Regions from separate parts of the Homo sapiens genome. Here region 2 is linked to region 1. The links come from fine-mapping of genetic effects on gene expression. A gene starts in region 1. The other region holds a variant in brackets. All regions are shown on one strand. Distances are from middle to middle.

Region 1 (4,383 bases):
TCATTTGCTCCACAATAACTTGTTGAGTACCTACTATGTCTGGAGCTGTTTTGCAGGTGCTGGGGATTCAGTGGTGAATAAGAAGCCCCTGGAGGCGAGCAGGACGTGCTCTGGGTCTGAGTCACTTTCATCTCTGTCCACGAGGCTGGGTGAGGAGCCTTCCTCACTGTGCTCTGTAGAGCCCTGGCACAAGGCAGGGCTGCCCCAGGGTGGGGAACGTCAGAGCTTCCAGGCTGCCTTCCTCCAGACCCCAGAGCCTGGACTGGGCCTCAGCGACCCCTCCCCAGTCAACCCGTCTTCTCCCTCCAGCTGCCTCTGGCCGCTTGTGCGTGAGGGTGGGTGAGCCCTTTGGGATGAGTCTCATCAGAGCCTCTGCACGCTGAGTGCTTCCTGCCTGCTTAATTTTGCCACTTTCAATCCAACCAGAGGGGCATTTTGGGTCTTGCTGACCAACCCCCTGCCTCCAAGAGCAACTAAAACAGAGACATCCTTGAGAGTTGTGTTGAGTGCTTAAAACCTCCAGGGAGGGAATTTTTTACTGCAACTTGCAAATTTAGCCAGCCTGGCTGACCGAACAGGCTTCACTCAGTACCTCATCTCCACCTCCTATGCTGGGTACACCTGGGTGCATATTAGAGCAAAGGCTGAAAACAAATGTTTATATTACAGTACAACCCTATGTAAAATACACAGCTGTACAAAGGGGTAAGGCTGCTTTTTACGTACTGATACAAAGAACTTCTCTCCAGTATAACTATGAAGTGAAAGAGGCAAGGTATGGAATACTGGGTGGCACATACTACCGTTTATATAAGAAGACAGTAGTAGGAGGAGAGAAGAAAAGAGCAAAAGCGCCCCGGACATAGTAGGTGTTCAGCAATTCTAGTGGAGCAAATGACTAAATGACCTCCTTGTCCTTCCTCAAAAAAGATAACCCAATGGGCTTCCAGGGGCATCTCCACTGAACTGAAAAGTTTGTAATTGTAACCAAGCAGCTTAACTTTGAGCACATTTTACAACTTTTCTCTTTAGTCTCGAGATGTAACCTCGAAGGAACCTGCAGAAGCCTTTTTCCCTTAACCTTAAAATAGACTCCACGTCCTTCCCTTTCTCACCATAAAGCCCCTTCAAATTTATCTAACTGTATGCTAGTATTGGAGGAGGAAGAGAAGAAGAAAAGGATACACACACATATTTACTTGGTCATGCATAACATTTATTTGGAAAGACATATAAGAAACGGGTAACACTGTCACTACCTCCACCTGCAGGTGGGTAAGGCACAGGGCAGGAGGGAGACTCTGAACTTGGAATCATGTGACTGTGGTACCTATTCAGGAGTAAGCATGACCCAGCCTGGGCAACATAACAAGACCCCATCTCTGCGGAAAAATGTAAAACCATTAGCTGGGCATGGTGGTGCACATCTGTAGTCCCAGCTGCTCAGGAGGCTGAGGTGGGAAGACCACTTGAGCCTGGGAGGTCAAGGCTGTGAACCATGATCACGCCACTTCACTCCAGCCTGGGTAACGGAGTGAGACCCTGTCTCAAAAACAACAACAAAAAAAAACTCAACCCAAGCTTAAGACATGAAATGAACACAATTTTAAAGTCAGTTATGTAAGTTCCTTGTGCCAGAGAAGGGTTCCTATTTCTTTGCTCTGTGGGCTCCGCTGAGATGAGTAGCAGCTGATGACCCTGGCTTGATGTATTCATTCCACTAACACTTGCTGTGCCCCCACCCCCACCGACACAGCTGTAAGCAAAGAGCTCACCTTAATCACTGGGGGTTGGGATGCAGGTTCCTGGACCACACCCTAGACCTTCTGGGCCCAGGAATTTGCAATGTTAACAAGCACCCTTGATAATTTTTGAAACCACCAGAGGGTTAATAACCACCTAGTCTAGGCAGGCGCTGTGGCTCACGCCTGTAATCCCAGCACTTTGGCAGGTCGAGATAGGAGGATTTCTGGGATCAAGAAGTTCGAGACTAGCCTGGGCAACATGGCAAAACCCGGTCTCTACAAAAAATACAAAAATCAGCTGGACATGGTGGTGCACACCTGTAGTCCCAGCTACTTGGGAGGCTGAGATGGATCACTGGAGCCAGGTAGGTTGAGGCTGCAGTGAGCTATGATTGCGCCACTGCACTCTAGCATGGGTAGAGACCCTGTCTCAAAAACAAAACCAAACCACCAGTCCAGCACTTTGCCGAGCTCCTTCGTCAATTTCCAGGAGACACACACCCTAGAACTGAGACCCCAGAGCCTGGGCATGCTGCCACACATTGCCATCCTGACTGCTACCATCAACTCCTCCCAACTGCCCTCTGCAGGTATTTGCCCCGACAGCTTCCAGCTGAGTCCTCCAGCAACATGGCCAAGTTGATCACTCCAAGGCACCGACTTCCCAGAGCCCCTCCTCTTCCCAGCTGAAGGCCACAGATGCCTAAGCAACCGGCCTCAGACTCCCCTGGCCTGCAGCTCTGCAGGCACGAGGTGCCTGATAAATTGGTGATGAAGGGGTTCTGATGCCACCTGCTCCCCAGACTATCAGCCACCAGGAAGCTCTTAGAGGGAAAATCAGTGACACCTGGGCAGCTGCTGACCCCTCCCCTTCTTAACAAGGGGGTGGCCTGCACAGGCCTGGACTGTATAACAGGGAAGGGCAGGGTGAGCCCTGGGGCGTCTGAGGCTGCTGTGCTGAGTGAGGGCTGCGGTGCAGGCCTGAGGATGGTCAGCGTGGAGGGCCGAGCCATGTCCTTCCAGAGTATCATCCACCTGTCCCTGGACAGCCCTGTCCATGCCGTTTGTGTGTTGGGCACAGAAATCTGCTTGGATCTCAGCGGGTGAGATGCTGGGAGCTCTGCCAGAGGTGGCAGGCAGACAGGCAGGCAGGCCTGGGACCCAGTCCCCTTGATCTGGGAGTTGGGGGTTACTTCTCTAGCCTCACTATCCTGCCCCATCTTGGGAAGCCTTGGGTCTCTAGTGGGGGGCCTCCCAGTTCCAACCACGCAGAATTCTGACTTAAATCCTGCCTCTGCCCTGTAGCAGCTGCCATGGACTCTTAGTGAGGCAAGGGCCTTGGCCTCTCTGTTCCCCTATCTGTGAAACCATGGGGACGCTGGCCTCGGGGGGCTGTGAGGAGCAGGCCAGGGAGACTGCTAGATGCTGGAGCCTGCAGGTGGAGGTGACTCAGCAGGGTCACAGTACAACTTCCTGAGTCGCTTGCCCTGATCTTTTTCTTTATGGGGATCCTTTGTGGCTCCCCCCTTCTTGGGAATTGGGTGCTTATTACTAAGATGTAGCTGTGGTAACTTCTGCAGTGTCGGTAGCGGGATGGGGTTTGGGCTGGAGCCCGTCGGAGAGCAAACACAGGGGTCCTTTGGGAGGGGGTGGGTAGGAATAAGGACCCCAGACCACTCTGCCTCAACACCCTAAGGAGAATGAGGATTCGGGAGCCGTCCCCTCCCCCATGCCAGTCATCTCCTAGGCTGAGAAGGTGTTTGTGCCCTGACGCGTGTCTCTTACCGGGCAAACCAGGTGTGCCCCCCAGAAGTGCCAGTGCTTCACCATCCATGGCTCTGGGAGGGTCTTGATCGATGTGGCCAACACGGTGATTTCTGAGAAGGAGGACGCCACCATCTGGTGGCCCCTGTCTGATCCCACGTACGCCACAGTGAAGATGACATCGCCCAGCCCTTCCGTGGATGCGGATAAGGTAAGCCTCAGGGGAAGAGGTGAGGGGCATCTCCCGGGGTGGGACCTAGCACAGCCACTGGGGCTTCCTCCTGGCTGCAGACGTGACTCGAGCCTGGGAAACACGTTGTTTTGCACGTCTGATCTCATCCAGTGTCTGCAACAGACCAGTGGTGTGGGCACTCCATGACCCCATTTTACAAAGAAACAGAGGCACCTAGCGAAGGTGCCCTGCCAAGTCAGCAACCAGCAGGACTGGGATTTATTTTTTATTTTCATTTATTTATTATTATTTTTTTTTTTGAGTCTCACGCTCATTGCCCAGACTGGGGTGCAATGGCACAATCTCAGCTCACTGCAACCTCCACTTCCCGGGTTCAAGCAATTCTCCTGCCTCAGCTTCCCGAGTAGCTGGGACTACAGGCACCCACCACCATGCCCGGCTAATTTTGTATTTTTAGTATGAGACAGGGTTTCACTATGTTGGCCAGGCTGGTCTCAAACTCCTGACTTCAAGTGATCTACCTGCCTCCACCTCCCAAAGTGCTGGGATTACAGGCATGAGCCACCACACCTGGCCTACCATCACTTTACATATGAGGAAACTAAGGCACAGAGTGCTGTGTCTAAACCTAAGTAGCCTACCTAGAGTGGGATAGACCCAGGATTTGAGCTTGAGCCCAAG
Region 2 (4,383 bases), 23 kb after region 1:
CAGAATGGACACGTGTTCAAGACCACAGAACCCTAACCCCCAGGCCCCGGAAGGCTCTGATACCTTTGGCTAAGGCTGTGAGAGCTGGGCCACTGCCCTGGGGTCCCGCCTGACTCTGGCACAGCACCAAGTCTAGAGCCCCGGTCAGCCTTCGGTTCTAGAGCTCTGTCCTCTGCAGATGAGTGATCATCACATGCTAGGCACGCCATCCTGAGCACCAGAGATAAACTGGAACATATGCTGTCCCATGTTAGCAAGGATAGAACTTTTAAGTGCTATGAAATTTAGACAATGAGATGATACAGTGATTCATTAGACCAAATGAGGCAGTTTAAGAATAGTTGGGAAAATCTGCAAATGAAACTTAAGGAAACAAGGAGCTGGCCATGCAGAGATTTGGGGCAGGGGTGGCCAGGATTAAAAGGAGTTCCTGGCCGGGTGCAGTGGCTCAAGCCTGTAATCCCAACACATTGGGAGGCTGATCACTTGAGGTCAGGAGTTTTAAAACAGCCTGGAAAACATGGCAAAATACTGTCTCTACTAAAAAAATACAAAAATCAGCCGGGCATGGTGGCGCGCGCCTGTAGTCCCACCTACTCTGGTCACTGAGGCAGAAGAATCGCTTGAACCCAGGAGGCGGAGGTTGCAGTGCACCTAGATCACGCCACTACACTCCAGCCTGGATGACAGAGCGAGACTGTCTCAAAAGAAAAAAAAAAATCTGGGGTTGTGCTTGGAGGTCTTGAAGAAGGCTGATGCAGACAGATCACAGTGAACAAAGGTGAAAGGCAGGGCTACCTCCTGGTTAAGGTACCTTTTAAGCTAAGGACAAACAAGAGACACTCAAAGCATGAATCGGGAATGAAAGGTTATAGTTCAGGTTTTCAAAAGACCCCTCTGGCTAAGATGTAGGGAACAGATCTTAAGAGTAGGCAAGAATAGAAGCGAAACTGGAAGGCATCACAGTGGCATAGGGTGGAGACACGGTGGCTTCCTGAGTGGCACCAGCGCAGAGCTGACTCAGAATGTAAGCCAGTAAGGCTTGTTAATGGATTCTTTACGAAAGAAGAAAGGAAGAATCTGGATGCTCAAGTCTTTTTCGCCCAGACTGGAGTGCAGTGGCGCGATCTCAGCTCCACTGCAGCCTCTGCCTCCTCCTGAGTAGCTGGGATTACAGGCATGAGCCACCATGCCTGGCTAACTTTTTGGTTTTGTTTTAAGTAGACTGTCTCACCATGTTTCCCAGGCTGGTCTTGAATTCCTAGGCTCAAGTGATCCACCCACCTTGGCCACCCAAAGTGCTGGGATTGCAGGCGTGAGCCACCACACCTGGCCATGGATGCTCAAGTCTTAAACCTGAAGAGTAGGGGAGAGAGGGATCGGAGAGCCTTCAAGAAGGGGTGATATCTGAGCTGGGTGTTGAGGGTTGAGCAGGAGTTGGCAGGAAGGAAGGGGGTTCTTACCGTACCTTTTCCGTAAATGGGGTCCGGGGAGATGTGTGACTGGCAAACAATCTGTCTTCCTCTCCATTCCAGGATGAGATGGCCTTCTGCTACACCCAGGCTCCCCACAAGACAACGTCCTTGATCCTCGACACACCTCAGGCCGCCGATCTCGATGAGTTCCCCATGAAGTACTCACTGGTGTGGAACTTGGTTTGGCTAATCTGAGCTCAGTCCAATCTCTCAGGCCTGGGGCCTGCCTAGAAATAATGGGGCACCAAGTGGGGAGAGGGCCCAGGTGGCCTCTGAGGGGGGAGGGGACGTGGAAGTCTACCTGAGAGCCTGGATTTAGGGATAAGACTGGGGCCTAAAGCCATCCCCTACTAACACCCCTTCCCTGGCTCGGTCTCTCCCCCAGAGCCCTGGTATTGGCTACATGATCCAGGACACTGAGGACCATAAAGTGGCCAGCATGGATTCCATTGGGAACCTGATGGTGTCCCCACCTGTCAAGGTCCAAGGGAAAGAGTACCCGCTGGGCAGAGTCCTCATTGGCAGCAGCTTTTACCCCAGGTGAGCCACAAAGCCAGACGCCTCCAAATGAAAGGAAGGGACCATGGTCGTTCCCCTGGCCCCGCCTGCTTCCCATAGCACCTCAGCAGGTCACACACACTGGACCATTTCTTAAACTGAAGACATTTGAGCTTTTGATTCACGTGGGAGACTAAAGATGAGAATAAACCATTTATTCTTTGATTCCAGGGTTTAAACTGAAACAAGTGAAATTTGGTCCACCAGGATGTCATTTCCAAGAGATATGTGGTTGGATTTCTTGGTGGCCATAAATCCAAAATGATACTTGTGCCCGGGCTTGTCTGTCTAGAAACACTAGGCTCTGTTCTGAGTGGGGTCAGAGTAAGGGATTCGTAACCAACACATCCGCTATGGACCGGCCTCTTTCACACAACGGTCAGAGGCCAGCTCCCTGGAGGCAGCATGACACCAAGTGG[C/T]GGGTGACCAGCCCTGGGCCACACTGGCTCAAGAGCTGTTCTTTCCATCTTCCTTCTAGCGCAGAGGGCCGGGCCATGAGTAAGACCCTCCGAGACTTCCTCTATGCCCAGCAGGTCCAAGCGCCGGTGGAGCTCTACTCAGATTGGCTAATGACTGGCCACGTGGATGAGTTCATGTGCTTCATCCCCACAGATGACAAGAATGAGGGCAAAAAGGTCTGCTTTGGGGTCTGGAGAAGGGACATCTGACCCTTGCCTTCTGTTGGGGAATCTTGGAAGATTCTGGAGAGAAAACTGGCTTTTTCTTGTTTTTTTTTTTTTTTGTTTGTTTTTTGAGAGTCTTGCTCTGTCACCCAGGCTGGAGTGCAGTGGCGTGATCTCCGCTCACTGCAACCACTGCCTCCCGGACTCAAGCAATTCTCCTGCCTCAGCCTCCTGAGTAGCTGGAATTACAGAAACATGCCACCACACCTGGCTCATTTTTGTATTTTTAGTAGAGATGGAATTTCACCATGTTGGCCAGGCTGGTCTCGAACTTCTGACCTCAGAGGATCTGCCTGCCTCGGCCTCCAAAGTGCTGGGATTACAGATATGAGCCACCATGTCCAGCTGAGAAAGCTGGCTTCTGACCCAAGTTCTGTTTCCCAGGGCTTCCTGCTGCTCCTGGCCAGCCCCAGTGCCTGCTATAAACTGTTCCGAGAGAAACAGAAGGAAGGCTATGGCGACGCTCTTCTGTTTGATGAGCTTAGAGCAGATCAGCTCCTGTCTAATGGTAAGGGAACTCCCTTTCCACAGAACAGAACTGGGGTCTTCCTTTTTCCAGGGGTCCTTTCTACATAGCCATTCTGTCACGCTTGGCGTAAAGGATGCCAGGGAAGCACAGAAGCTGTTGGAATTGCCATATTAGAACGTCTTATTTCTGGGCTGCTCTAGTGGTACTACAACACAAGTAGACCAGATGTTCTGGGATGGCCTGGAGGCTGTTTGGATGTATTTGAAGGGGGACTCACTTAGTACATAGGTGGCCCCAAGTGGGGGGAAAACGGGTGTTAACAATGCTAGTGCCTGGATTTATTCAGGGCATGTTGGATTAAGTATCTAGGGACTGGGACTTTGTGGGTCTCCTGGTTACATTAAGGAAACACACAGGTGGACAAGCAGAGGTGGTGTGGCTGGTGCCATTGCACTTCTGATCTAAAGGCTGTGGGAGTGGGCTGGGCATGGTGGCTCACACCTGTAACCCCAGCACTTTGGGAGGCTGAGGCGGGCAGATCACCTGAGGCCAAAAGTTCGAGGCCAGCCTGGCCAACATGACGAAAGCCCATCTCTACTAAAGATACGAAAATTAGCCGGGCATGGTGGTGCATGCCTGTAATCTCAGCTACTCGGGAGGCTGAGGCAGGGGAATCGCTTTAACCTGGGAGGTGGAGGTTGCGGTGAGCTAAGATCGTGCCATTGCACTCCAGCCTGGGCCACAGAGCAAGACTCCATCTCAAAAAATAATAAAGGCTGTAGGAACCCAGAAAGGGGCTGGGGGTATTAGGTTTTTCTAGACCCTCAATACTCAAAGTGTTATCTGAGGGCCAGCGCACCTGGGAGCTTGTTAAAAATGTAGAATTTCCACCCTGCTCCACACCTCCTGGATACTCAGCCTTTGGGGTTGGGGCCCGGGAACTCCTGGTCATAGAAGCACCATGGAAGGTGACATCTGCTGAGCATGAACCACATGACAAAGACTATCACCTCAGAGCTGGCAAATAAATTGGGCATCCCTGTCCCAAAGATCAGGCAATTGAGGAACAAAGGTAATGTAACCTGGAGAGGGTCACAGGCAGAAAGTGCCAGGTTGTATTGGCATAAGGGGAGTAGGGGCTGAAGTCATCCTAACAAGCTCTAGGCTGTGTCCCTCAGCCTGGCACAGGCTATTCCCC

The links. PIP is the estimated chance that this variant, and not a neighbour inherited with it, causes the effect. A credible set is the group of variants that fine-mapping cannot tell apart.
Region 2: its variant is the best candidate, but not a certain one, in a credible set for the expression of PADI6 in whole blood (INTERVAL, PIP 0.70).

Annotation. Positions count from the first base shown.
Region 1 is chr1:17,369,514-17,373,896 of GRCh38, forward strand. PADI6 (peptidyl arginine deiminase 6) reads left to right here and starts at 2,683. Exons shown (of 16, transcript NM_207421.4): 1 at 2,683-2,848; 2 at 3,543-3,720. The coding sequence starts at 2,733.
Region 2 is chr1:17,392,440-17,396,822 of GRCh38, forward strand. PADI6 (peptidyl arginine deiminase 6) reads left to right here. Exons shown (of 16, transcript NM_207421.4): 10 at 1,536-1,643; 11 at 1,861-2,015; 12 at 2,512-2,668; 13 at 3,101-3,224. Among named protein-coding and RNA genes, the nearest start is that of PADI6, 22 kb to the left of the region's middle. RefSeq lists an enhancer at 1,282-2,481. The variant C/T (reference allele first, on the strand shown) is at 2,453.